Linked DNA regions of Homo sapiens. The protein of the gene in region 1 interacts with the protein of each later gene in a pairwise test. Each region holds a gene or a part of one and is shown in the gene's direction. Other genes may lie near its edges.

The links.
Region 2: the proteins of MYG1 (region 1) and TLCD4 interact in binary tests that used the Homo sapiens proteins (3 or more experiments, as listed by UniProt).
Region 3: the proteins of MYG1 (region 1) and ROM1 interact in binary tests that used the Homo sapiens proteins (3 or more experiments, as listed by UniProt).

The regions. Positions count from the first base shown.
Region 1 is NC_000012.12:53,297,476-53,301,221, forward strand, and holds the start of MYG1 (MYG1 exonuclease precursor), read left to right. Parts: upstream 1-2,219; 5' UTR 2,220-2,262; coding exon 2,263-2,478; intron 2,479-2,674; coding exon 2,675-2,787; intron 2,788-3,746. Other genes in the region: PFDN5 (prefoldin subunit 5), read left to right, coding at 375-449, 570-675, 1,794-1,870. UniProt on the Homo sapiens protein: 3'-5' RNA exonuclease which cleaves in situ on specific transcripts in both nucleus and mitochondrion. Involved in regulating spatially segregated organellar RNA processing, acts as a coordinator of nucleo-mitochondrial crosstalk.
Region 2 is NC_000001.11:95,115,469-95,119,214, forward strand, and holds the start of TLCD4 (TLC domain-containing protein 4), read left to right. Parts: upstream 1-1,886; 5' UTR 1,887-2,149; intron 2,150-2,454; exon of another isoform or gene 2,455-2,623; intron 2,624-3,746.
Region 3 is NC_000011.10:62,611,538-62,615,283, forward strand, and holds ROM1 (rod outer segment membrane protein 1), read left to right. Parts: upstream 1-1,719; 5' UTR 1,720-1,744; coding exon 1,745-2,334; intron 2,335-2,720; coding exon 2,721-2,967; intron 2,968-3,083; coding exon 3,084-3,302; 3' UTR 3,303-3,579; downstream 3,580-3,746. Other genes in the region: EML3 (echinoderm microtubule-associated protein-like 3), read right to left, coding at 1-59, 143-314. UniProt on the Homo sapiens protein: Plays a role in rod outer segment (ROS) morphogenesis. May play a role with PRPH2 in the maintenance of the structure of ROS curved disks. Plays a role in the organization of the ROS and maintenance of ROS disk diameter.

The DNA.
Region 1 (3,746 bases):
CTTCATGATTGAGGGCATTAAGGGAAATGAGGCTGGCTTTTTACTTGTAGTACTCTACAACAGTAGGAAAACATGTCTAGTCTTTCTGGAGGGGCTAATGGGAAGAATTGCAAGAACTGCTTAGAGAGTGAGAGATGGGATGAGGCAGGACAAGAGGGTGTTCCAGCATACATCATTTTCTCCTTAAAGAACCAACTTCTCTGTCTTCTTTCCATTTGGAGTTATAGGTATTGTTCTAAGGCCTCCAGATTATTCAGTCCTTATGCCTTGTAGCTTTTTGGAAAAAGAGGGTCTTTGGAGGCCAAGCAGGCTGGCTGGCGGAATCATGGCTCATGCTGGGCTGGCTAGTTTTTCCCTTAATTCTTGCTTCTCAGATGTATGTCCCTGGGAAGCTGCATGATGTGGAACACGTGCTCATCGATGTGGGAACTGGGTACTATGTAGAGAAGGTGAGTGAGAGCATGTGGATGCCCCTCTAAACAGGGAAGGGAAATTCAGGGGAAGCTCTAGAGCGCAGCATGGCCAGAGGGAGTCTCCTTTTAGCCCCTTATTCACCTCTGATCTTGTAGACAGCTGAGGATGCCAAGGACTTCTTCAAGAGGAAGATAGATTTTCTAACCAAGCAGATGGAGAAAATCCAACCAGCTCTTCAGGAGAAGCACGCCATGAAACAGGGTAAGTTTTTCCTGGGGCACCTCTTGACCCTATCTCCATAATAAGGAACATGGATTGCAGTGTGAACCACGGGGGTGTCCCCTTTGCTGGAGTAAAACTATGTCTTAGTTTCTCTTTGGCATCTTTAGAATCTGTGTATTGCATAATCACTATCTGTAGATTCCTGGGTTGAGCGTTTGAGAAATTTAGAGGAAGGAAATCATGTTTGTGCTTTGGTGGAGCTCCTATTTAATGACGATGGAATGGGGGAATGAGATGAACACACAGGAAGGAATCATGATCCAAACGAACTAAATACCAGCAATTATAACCCCGACTGCACATGAGAATCACTCAGGAAGTTTAAAAAGAAAGCTTGGGCCCATTCCAGATTGACTAAATCAACTTGGAAGTCAAAGGAGGGGAAGTTGTACCAAGGTCTGTTTTTTTTTAAAAAAGCTCCCCTCTGTTATAATCAGGATTCAGAACCAGTGTTCCAAAGGTAAAAATCTTTCCCCATCATAGTTTTCTGATTATGTCAGACTCATTTAATACCATATTGTGTTCGTTTTTATATCTTTGGTTAGCAGGTTTTTTTTTTTTCCGAGAAGAGTCTCATTCTCACCACACCCAGCTGTGTTAGCATATTGACCGATGCATTGTAGACCCTAAATTTGTGTTAGTGACCCCACAGTGGATCACTGAGTTAAAGTTTTATTAACAATGCCAGGCGCAGTGGCTGACGCCTGTAATCCCAGCACTTTGGGAGGCCAAGGCAGGTGGATCACCTGAGGTTAGGAGTTCAAGACCAGCCTGGCCACCATGGTGAAACCCCATCTCTACTAAAAATACAAAGTTAGCCCGGGCATGGTGGTGCATGCCTGTAATCCCAGCTGTTCGGGAGGATGAGGCAGGAGAATCGCTTGAACCCGGGAGACGGAGGTTGCTGTGAGCCAAGATCGTGCCACTGCACTCCAGCCTCGGTGACAAGAGCAGGATTCTGTCTCAAAAAAAAAAAAAAAAGGTTATTAACAAACTGTAGTTAGTCGGTCGCCTGTCCTTAAACTTGCCTGTCACTTCTCCTTAACTCTAGGTTCTCCTTTTTGCTTCTAACCTTTGACTCTTATTTTTTTCCACAGCCGTCATGGAAATGATGAGTCAGAAGATTCAGCAGCTCACAGCCCTGGGGGCAGCTCAGGCTACTGCTAAGGCCTGAGAGTTTTTGCAGAAATGGGGCAGAGGGACACCCTTTGGGCGTGGCTTCCTGGTGATGGGAAGGGTCTTGTGTTTTAATGCCAATAAATGTGCCAGCTGGGCAGAATGTTGGTCTTTTCTTGGATTAAGCAAGGGACTGGTGATGAGATGGGGGGTGTGGTCGAGAGTGTGGGCCCCGTCTCAGAGCCTGATGCGCAGGGGTGATGCGATGCGCCTCTTGGAGGCTCCATCGCAGGGCCCTTTGACCAGCTGGAAGAAATCCTAGGCTGGGAGTCTGCTGCTGCTCACTCTGCAGAGCTGGTTGCCAAGGGAACGGTTGGCAAGCGGAAGTGGGGCTGCGCTGGCGCTTCCTCTTCCGGGTCGGCGCTCCTGCCTCCCTGCAGGGAGCTGCTTATGGGACACCAATTCCTGCGCGGCCTCTTAACGCTGCTGCTGCCGCCGCCACCCCTGTATACCCGGCACCGCATGCTCGGTCCAGAGTCCGTCCCGCCCCCAAAACGATCCCGCAGCAAACTCATGGCACCGCCCCGAATCGGGACGCACAATGGCACCTTCCACTGCGACGAGGCACTGGCATGCGCACTGCTTCGCCTCCTGCCGGAGTACCGGGTACGGTCCGCGAAAAGTGACCCTGGGACTGCGTGCATGCATGCCTCCGGGGTGGATGGCATTCCGCCAACAGGGTCACTCCGATAGCGCCCGGCAGCCCAAGCACCCTTCCTACCCTTCCTGCCTCCCTGAAGTCCAGCATTAATCCCCTACCCGGCGACACCCGGCAGCCCCTTCACCCCTGTGTACCTCGCAGGATGCAGAGATTGTGCGGACCCGGGATCCCGAAAAACTCGCTTCCTGTGACATCGTGGTGGACGTGGGGGGCGAGTACGACCCTCGGAGACACCGATATGACCATCACCAGAGGTAGGTTCTCAGATACCATTTATTTAACTTCCTTGACCTCAGCTTTCCTCTGTGCTCCAATTCAGCCATCCACTGCCGTAGTCCGCGTCAGCGAAAAGAACTGCTTCATCACTGAAATCAAACTCCCACTAGGACTACATCATCCTTCCGGCCCTGCCTGTTCTTCACCCATCTCCCTGGCCTGGGACCTCCTTTGGTTCCCAGGGAGTCCCTCAGGCCCCTTATCTCATCTCCTTCCTTAGCCAAGGCTTTTTTTCCATCAGCAACTTCATCACCCCAACTAAATAAACCCATCTGTGATTAATCCATTCTGGTGCCCTTGCTGCTGCACCTAACTGCTGGGCCCACATGATTGTGGCAGTTGGTGACAGTTCAGATGTGTGAAGTTTTCTACTTCATTTACACCCTTCCAAAGGGAAATCCTTCTTGCTCAAGGGTAGCCCATTCCAATCCTTTTCTTCTCCCTCAAGCCTCTACCGCATCAAACTGAGTGTCCCTGCCTCTTTTCAAAAGAAGTTGAGCATTTCCTCAGTCTCCCACCTCAAACATCCTCAGCTCCCTCCTACCAACTAAGGGAAATTTCTTCCCTTCTATTGGAGGTTAATCCTCTGTCCTGTTTCCAGTCTATTACTTTCTTCTCTGGGATTCTTTTTTCTTTTCTTTTTTTTTTTTTTTGAGACGGAGTCTCCCACTGTCGCCCAAGCTGGAGTGTAGTGGCACGATCTCGGCTCACTGCAACCTCTGTCTCCCAGGTTCAAGCGATTCTCCTGTCTCAGCCTCCCGAGTAGCTGGGACTACAGGCACCCACCACCACACCCGGCTAATTTTTGTATTTTTAGTAGAGACGGGTTTCACCATATTGGCCAGAGTGGTCTCGAACTCCTGGCCTTGTGATCTGCCCCGCCTTGGCCTCCCAAAGTGCTGGGATTACAGGTGTGAGCCACTGTTGGCCTATCCTC
Region 2 (3,746 bases), on another chromosome or scaffold:
GATGTATTCTTCTACCTCCTAAGGTCACTGAGTTTTAATTAGCTTAAAACTTGCAACATTCAACTACTATTTACTGAATTCCTCTCATAGCTCAGGCCTTGTCCTTGATATATTAACTTATATGTTCTGTACAATCTCAAAAACAATCTTGCAGTTTTCATGAGGCATTTGTAGAGGCCTAATATGAAGGAATATAGTGGGACATAGAGTATAGTGGATTTCTGTGGGTTTACCTGGCTTTGGTTACTGCTGTTGGTGTTAGAGAATTATGCATATCAAAGATAATGATGGTGCATTTATCAGGAAAGAACAGAGCTACTATCAGCCACCAGAGACTAGCATGGGAGAGTTTCTGTAGGAGGTAGTGTTGATACAGACTCTTGAGAGGACACTGTGAAATTGGTATTTTCTGGGCTGACTTCACAGATGTTCACATATAACCATCCTGCCCACAGAGAGTTATGAAATAGCTATGTGAGTGCACAAGGTAGCTATTGCGCAAACCAAAGTTGTCAGGTACTGCACATATTGTGAAGGGACTATGATGGGACACCGTGTGGTTCAAAGAGCACTGGAGCCCTGGTACATCCTGAGAGTCTTGGGGAGAAAAAGGGGAACACGCATTTGGGGGCCTGAAAGATCTTTCTCTCTGCTTGACTGCAGGGCAGGTTTCTGTCCCTCCCTGTTCTGTGGTATAGATTTTGTCTTTTCCACATCAGTCCAGGTCTTCAGAGTCACTATGAATTATTATTACCATTTTAAAGATGAAGAAATTGAGCCTCAGTGAGGTTCAGTTAGCTAAAGGCACACAACTCTAATAAACTGACAGAATTCCAGGTTCTGATTTAAATTCTATTGCCCTCTCTTGAAAATAAACATGGACAGCTTATATGAGCTTTTGTGTATATATTTTCTGGTCTAAATCTGCGGCAGATATGTGTGTCTTTCTGCGCATGTATATAGTAGATCAAATATGTTAGCTCTATTGACATTTCTTAGAAATAAATATCCTGTTATCAATGATAGTGTTTACAAATTATTTATTTAGAACTTACCTCTTTTCAAGAAAAGGCCTTGTGATTGCTCTCTGCGAATTATAATGCATGAGTATACCTCTTTGTTATTTTGTTTTGTTTCAGACAATTATCTCTGGTTGATGCAGATCACTTGGAGGCTTTTGGGGCTGTATATAACAGGTCAGAACATCTATTTAATGTCAAACTTTATCTACTAGGCAACTTGGAATTCTCAGCCAGCACCAAATATTCAAATCCAACTTCCACACCCCGACAACAGAGGGGTTCCGGGTGTAGGTGTAGTGCTGGTGCACCCATGAGGGTGTTTTTCAGGAATTCTGGAGGTGGTGCTGGAGAGAACACGCTTCTTCTACACGCGCCCCCTACCAGTTTGGTATGCACCTGCAGCCCCAAAGAAGAACTGGCGGGACTCGAGTGTGGCCGTGTCAGACGTGGCAAGAAAAACCAGCAGTTGCCTTTTCATCTCTTTTCTGATGATCTAACCATGAAGTCCCCAGTATTTGAGCATTTAAGGCAGAATGTAAATTCATAATTTAAGAAGATTTTTTGTTACGTGGCTAGCCCAGGTACTGACCGCTGCGGGGGCGGGCTCACACAGTTCCCCCGCTGGCAAGTTTTGTGACTTGCTTTGGAAAACCCGGGAATTGCACCCTCTGCCCTTGGCAAGGTGTGAGCTTCCAGGATCTCTCCGCTGCGACTTCGGGTGTTAGGGTTTTTGGGCTCTTTCCGGGACCCAAGTTCCAGGGCAAGAAGGTCTGCTCGGCGGCCCGCCTCGGGGCCCCGCCCACTTTGGCCAGGGTCGGAGCCGCCCGGAGCGGGAGCCGGAGCCCGAGCGGCCGCGGCCCCTTTAAGGAGCAGCTCTGCGGTAACCCGAGCCCGCAGTCCGGGCGGGCGCGACGGCCGCCGCGGTAGCTGGAGCCTCCGCGACTGCACCTCCAAGCGGCCCGGAACCCGCGGCTTCCCTGGCTCCCGTGAGCATCTCACCGGGCGGCACTGGCCAGCGCCAGCCCTCGGGCCGGCCCGGATGAGCAGACTCCTGTAGACACCCGCCGCCCTCTCCCGGCTCGGCGCAGCCGCCGCCCGCGCGCGACTCGCCCCGGGACCCGGCACAGGTGACGCCGTTTGGAGGGGGGGTTGGGGAGGAAGGCGGGCTTGCCTCGCCCCGCGGCTCCCCCGCGCCAGCCGCCAAGCGCAGCCCGCGGAGAGGGGTGCCGCGGCTTCCCGCCCCTGGCCTAGCGCGGCCGAGAGCTCCTGCGCCTGGAGGCTGGGTGGGCGTCCGGCGCGCGGGAGGCGGCCCGGGGCTCCCGGGCGGGCTCCGGCAGGTGTGTGCGGAAGGCTCAGCATCGTCCCCGCCCGGCGGGCCACGGCGTCGCTCCGGGAGCAAATGGTGTCCCGGGGCCCGCGGCCCCCGCGCCGCCCGGGCGCCCCGCATTCCTCTCGCGTTTCTCGGGCTGCACGATTCCGGCTGCCCTGTCTGCCTGGCGGTGCCTCTCGGGTCTGAGCTTAAAGCGGGTGGGTGCAAACCTTTGGGCATCCAGGGAGAGCTTTCTTGTTAGAGCCCACACACAATCGGGCGCATCAAGTGGGTAAGTCCCCCTCCCCCGCCGCCACCTTCTGAAACAAGTAGCTCTTATTTACCCTTGCAGTTCTCAAGTGGGTCCCATTTTTAGCCACTGAGTGCTGAAAAGTCTAGTGGGAAGGGACCAGGCGTAGAGTCGGAGGGAGAAATTGGTTTCTATTTCCATCTTTACCTCTGTAACCCCTAAGTGCCTCGGTTTACCCAGCCATGAAATGGGATTCGTAATGCCAGCAGTTTCCTACCCCTCCAAGACGGCAGAAAAACCTCTGTGAAAACACTTTGAGTCTAAATTCATTTAAGAGTCGCTGTTGCTGGTCTGTATATTTTTAATTGTACACACATTTGAGTGTTAATGTGGTGCACACTTTTATATGAAATTATGAAATTTACTTTAAAGACTGATCTTGGATAATGTTTAATCCAAATACCAGTTTGGAGAAGATGGAAGAGTTTGTGTGGACCCTAGGAATTGATGTGTGAAATAGGAAAAAAGATTTAATAAAATCTTTACGCAGTCATAAATGGAGTTGAGAAAAATTGACCTTGGATTGTGGTGTTTTAAGTGAGTTACTCCCGTGCCAGCGCATGGTGTCGATTGAAATGTAGCTTCATCTTTGTGTAGCCGATTAAGGTAATAAGTTAGAGAATCCCAGCTCCCTTTTAATTGTGCTATATATGAGGAATTTTTATCCTTGCTTATCTTTTCCTTAAATTGGGCGAAACGAAATTAGAAAAGTGTATTCCCGCCGTGTTAGAAAATATGAAAGAATGGGTGAAGAACCATGGATTTTAGTTTATTTGCCACGCCCCTCCTGTGCCATCTGATAACCCAGAGAATATTTTGAGGGTGCTTCTTTTTTTTTCTACGCCTGCAACTCCTTTTGTCCCATTACCTCCCTCTGGAGTTTGAATCTTTACTGTCCTCATCCTTGAGATGAATTTTATCTGTTTAGGCTGGATGCCTCTGACCCAGCTGCCCAATCAGTCATTATTTATTTACAGTATTAGATTTCCATTTATATTCATTTCACTCTAAGCCTTCTTTACCCTGGTGGAAAGAATAATGGGTCTTTGCTACTAATGCTTTATACTTGGAGGTGAACTAGGAATGGCATGCTCAAGGTGCTGAG
Region 3 (3,746 bases), on another chromosome or scaffold:
CTCCTGCACCCGAAGCCGCTGGCTCAGAGACTGGAGGGCCTCCCGAGCAGGGCCGTCACCTGGGAAAAGGGCAAGAGGTACTCAGAATGTACCCATCACCTGAAGAAAGCGTAGAGGGGATTCTGTCTCCCCACAACTTTACATGTGTCCGGTAGGACTGCCCCTTTCAGGCAGCCCCAGGCTTGAATGCTCGTCCAGAGGGGAGGAGACGGTGGTAAAGGATCAAGGGCCTCCTTCTGGCAGGGCAGGCGAGAAACCTGGCAAAGCTCCCTTCCTGCTGCCGTCTCAGCCTCCGCAAAGACTGGGAGTACCATGGAGTACCGGGGGGGAAATATGGAGTACTGCCGAGGAACGTGGGAGCCACAGAGAGAGGCGCCGCACTGGTGAGGGCAGGGACCGCAGCCCTCCCCACGCGCCCCCAGCAAGCTCAGGTCTCCAGCGAAAGCTGAGTAACTGAGCCGGGGGAACACCAGGAGAGAGAACGGGGTGCGGGAATGGAGTCATACTGAGGACCCAGAGTACAAGAAAAGAGATCCAGAGTGACAGGAGAGAGTGTGAGTGGTGAGCAGAGTCACAGTGAAGGTCTCAGGGGGCAGTGGGGATCAGAAGGAAAAAGACCTGAAATACCACGAGAAGAGGCCCGGAGTAACGCAGGGGGCAGGGAAACATCGAGGGGCCCGGAGTTACGTGGGGCGTAGAATGACGCTGGGGAAGCCCGAAGTGACAGCAAGACCCAAGCAACTAGGGAGGGCGACCGGAGGAACTGTGGAGGATGCTCGGAGCCCCTGGGGCGGAGGAGCACGCGGGGACGCCTCCAGACAGCCGTCCAGCTCTGGCATAACCCGACGAGCCGGGCGCTCCGGGAAGGGGCACGCCGCCCGCCCCGCCCCGTACTCACCGGGCCCCGCGGCCCCGTCCATCCGGCCCCCGGGTTGCTCCGAGCGGCGGCGGCGGAGGAGGCGTCTAAGCCGCGGGGGCCACGGCCGGGGAGAGGGGAAGGGGAAGCACCCCGGGGCGCGCGCGAAGGGCGCCGTACCACCACCCCGAGGGGGCGCTGTCGGGCGCGGGGAAGGGGCCTGGAGGGGGCGCTGTGGGCCCGGGGCCGCAGTCTCCAGACCCCCCCGGGCCCTCGGACTCTCCCGGGGCCGCTCTCGGCTCCCGGGGGTGGGGTGGCAGGGCCGTCCGGTGCCACAGCGCCGCAGCACAAACAGGCGCCGGACGCGGAGCCGCCAGGAAGCGCGGGAGGGGGGGCGGGCCCGAGGGGGGGCCGGGCCGCTTGGTAACCCCTCCCTGTCCGGGCCTCGCCGCTCAGTACGGGGGCGGGGCTAGCCGGCTGACCCCCTGGCCTACTCCCGGCCTCCGGCTCCAGGCCCTTCCCGGATCCCCGCCCCCGGATTCCCAGGGGACGGGGAAGGGAGCGCCCGCCCCGATATCTCCGCCCCCCAGCCCCTAACCCCTCAGGGTTGAGCGGACCAACCCCACCACTTCCGCGAGGGGCAGGGGCGGGGTCACAAAACGGGCCCTCGGCCTAGGGGCGGAGTTTCTCGTAAGGGGCAAGGCCAAGGCATCTTGTATTGGGGCTGACAGGGGGGCGGGTTATTAGGGCTGAGGATGGGAGGATGCTCAGGGTATTGGGGTCAGGGTGGCATTAGCCCAGCTCAAGCCGGGCCGGGCTGACTCAGCATCCTGCCCCAGCCAGCTTCCATCCCTGACACCTCTGCATTCCCTTGGGCAGAGATGGGAGATGGCGCCGGTGTTGCCCCTGGTGCTGCCCCTGCAGCCCCGCATCCGCCTGGCACAAGGGCTCTGGCTCCTCTCCTGGCTGCTGGCGCTGGCTGGTGGCGTCATCCTCCTCTGTAGTGGGCACCTCCTGGTCCAGCTAAGGCACCTTGGCACCTTCCTGGCTCCCTCCTGTCAGTTCCCTGTCCTGCCCCAGGCTGCCCTGGCAGCGGGCGCGGTGGCTCTGGGCACAGGACTAGTGGGTGTAGGAGCCAGCCGGGCAAGTCTGAATGCAGCTCTATACCCTCCCTGGCGAGGGGTCCTGGGCCCGCTGCTGGTGGCTGGCACGGCTGGTGGGGGGGGGCTCCTGGTCGTCGGCCTCGGGCTAGCCCTGGCTTTGCCTGGGAGTCTGGATGAGGCGCTGGAGGAGGGCCTGGTGACTGCCTTGGCTCACTACAAGGACACAGAGGTGCCTGGGCACTGTCAGGCCAAAAGGCTGGTGGATGAGCTGCAACTGAGGTACCACTGCTGCGGGCGCCACGGGTACAAGGATTGGTTTGGGGTCCAGTGGGTCAGCAGCCGTTACCTGGATCCCGGTGACCGGGATGTGGCTGAGTGAGTGATTTGCGTCTCCCTTCCTCCTCCTCCTCCTCCCTGGACAGGCTCCCTCCTGCTGCCTTGAATCCCCACCTCGCTCAGAGGGGCAATAAGTAGAACATAGTGGCTGAGAGACTGGTTACAGCTCTGCCATTTATTAGCTGTGAAACCCAGGGCATGTTACCAAACCACCCTGGGCCCATTCCTTCACCTGTAAAATGGAAATAATAGTACTTATCTGATAGAGTTGTTGTGAAGATGTGAATTATGCTTGGCTGGCACATAGTACAGCAGTCAGTAAATGTTTTACTATTCTTTTTCCCTTCTGAACACCTGTGCCCTTCAGTCCCTCCCCCAGGCCTCTATCTCCAGACATCCTAACCCCTCTGTCCCTCCCTTTGCAGCCGGATCCAGAGCAATGTAGAAGGCCTATACCTGACTGATGGGGTCCCTTTCTCCTGTTGCAACCCCCACTCACCCCGGCCTTGCCTGCAAAACCGTCTTTCAGACTCCTACGCCCACCCCCTGTTCGATCCCCGACAACCCAACCAAAACCTCTGGGCCCAAGGGTGCCATGAGGTGCTGCTGGAGCACTTGCAGGACTTGGCAGGCACACTGGGTAGCATGCTGGCTGTCACCTTCCTACTGCAGGTGAGTCAGCAAAGCATCTGACACCTCCTCCCACCCGGGACTCCTCCCTGCCTCCAACCCTGGGCCTCTTGGAACCGCTGACTCTCCCTGACTCTTTCCCCTTGCTTCCCCCACAGGCTCTGGTGCTCCTTGGCCTGCGGTACCTGCAAACAGCACTGGAGGGGCTTGGAGGGGTCATTGATGCGGGAGGAGAGACCCAGGGCTATCTCTTTCCCAGTGGGCTGAAAGATATGCTGAAAACAGCATGGCTACAGGGAGGGGTTGCCTGCAGGCCAGCACCTGAGGAGGCCCCACCAGGAGAAGCACCTCCCAAGGAGGATCTATCTGAGGCCTAGAGGCCTGGAGCTTGGGGTGAGGAAGAGGGAGGGATGGACAAGTCTGAAAACCTCACAACTCCTTACCAAGGCTCCAGGTTGGGGGGATCGTAGGATTAGAGGGGCTAAGGATAGTCAGCGAGCTGGACTGGGGTAAGAAAGAAAACCAGATGTCCTAGGGCCTAGCCCTTGTAGTCAGAACCACCAGGGAACAGCAAAGAACAGAGTGATGGGAAAGTGACATGAGAAGGCCTGGAGGCTGATTCTGATATAGACTCAATAAAGTTTTTGGATGGAAGCAATTGCTTTTTCTTGTCAAGGGGATGGGGGCCTGGGAGAACTGATTTCTGTCTGATGGAGCAGCTAGGACTCCAAAGTTTGGACCCTGGCTCGACCTGTGCAGCAACAGGAGCCCACATCTGTAAGGATCAGAAAGCAAGAACCCAATGTAAGAAGCAAAGGAAA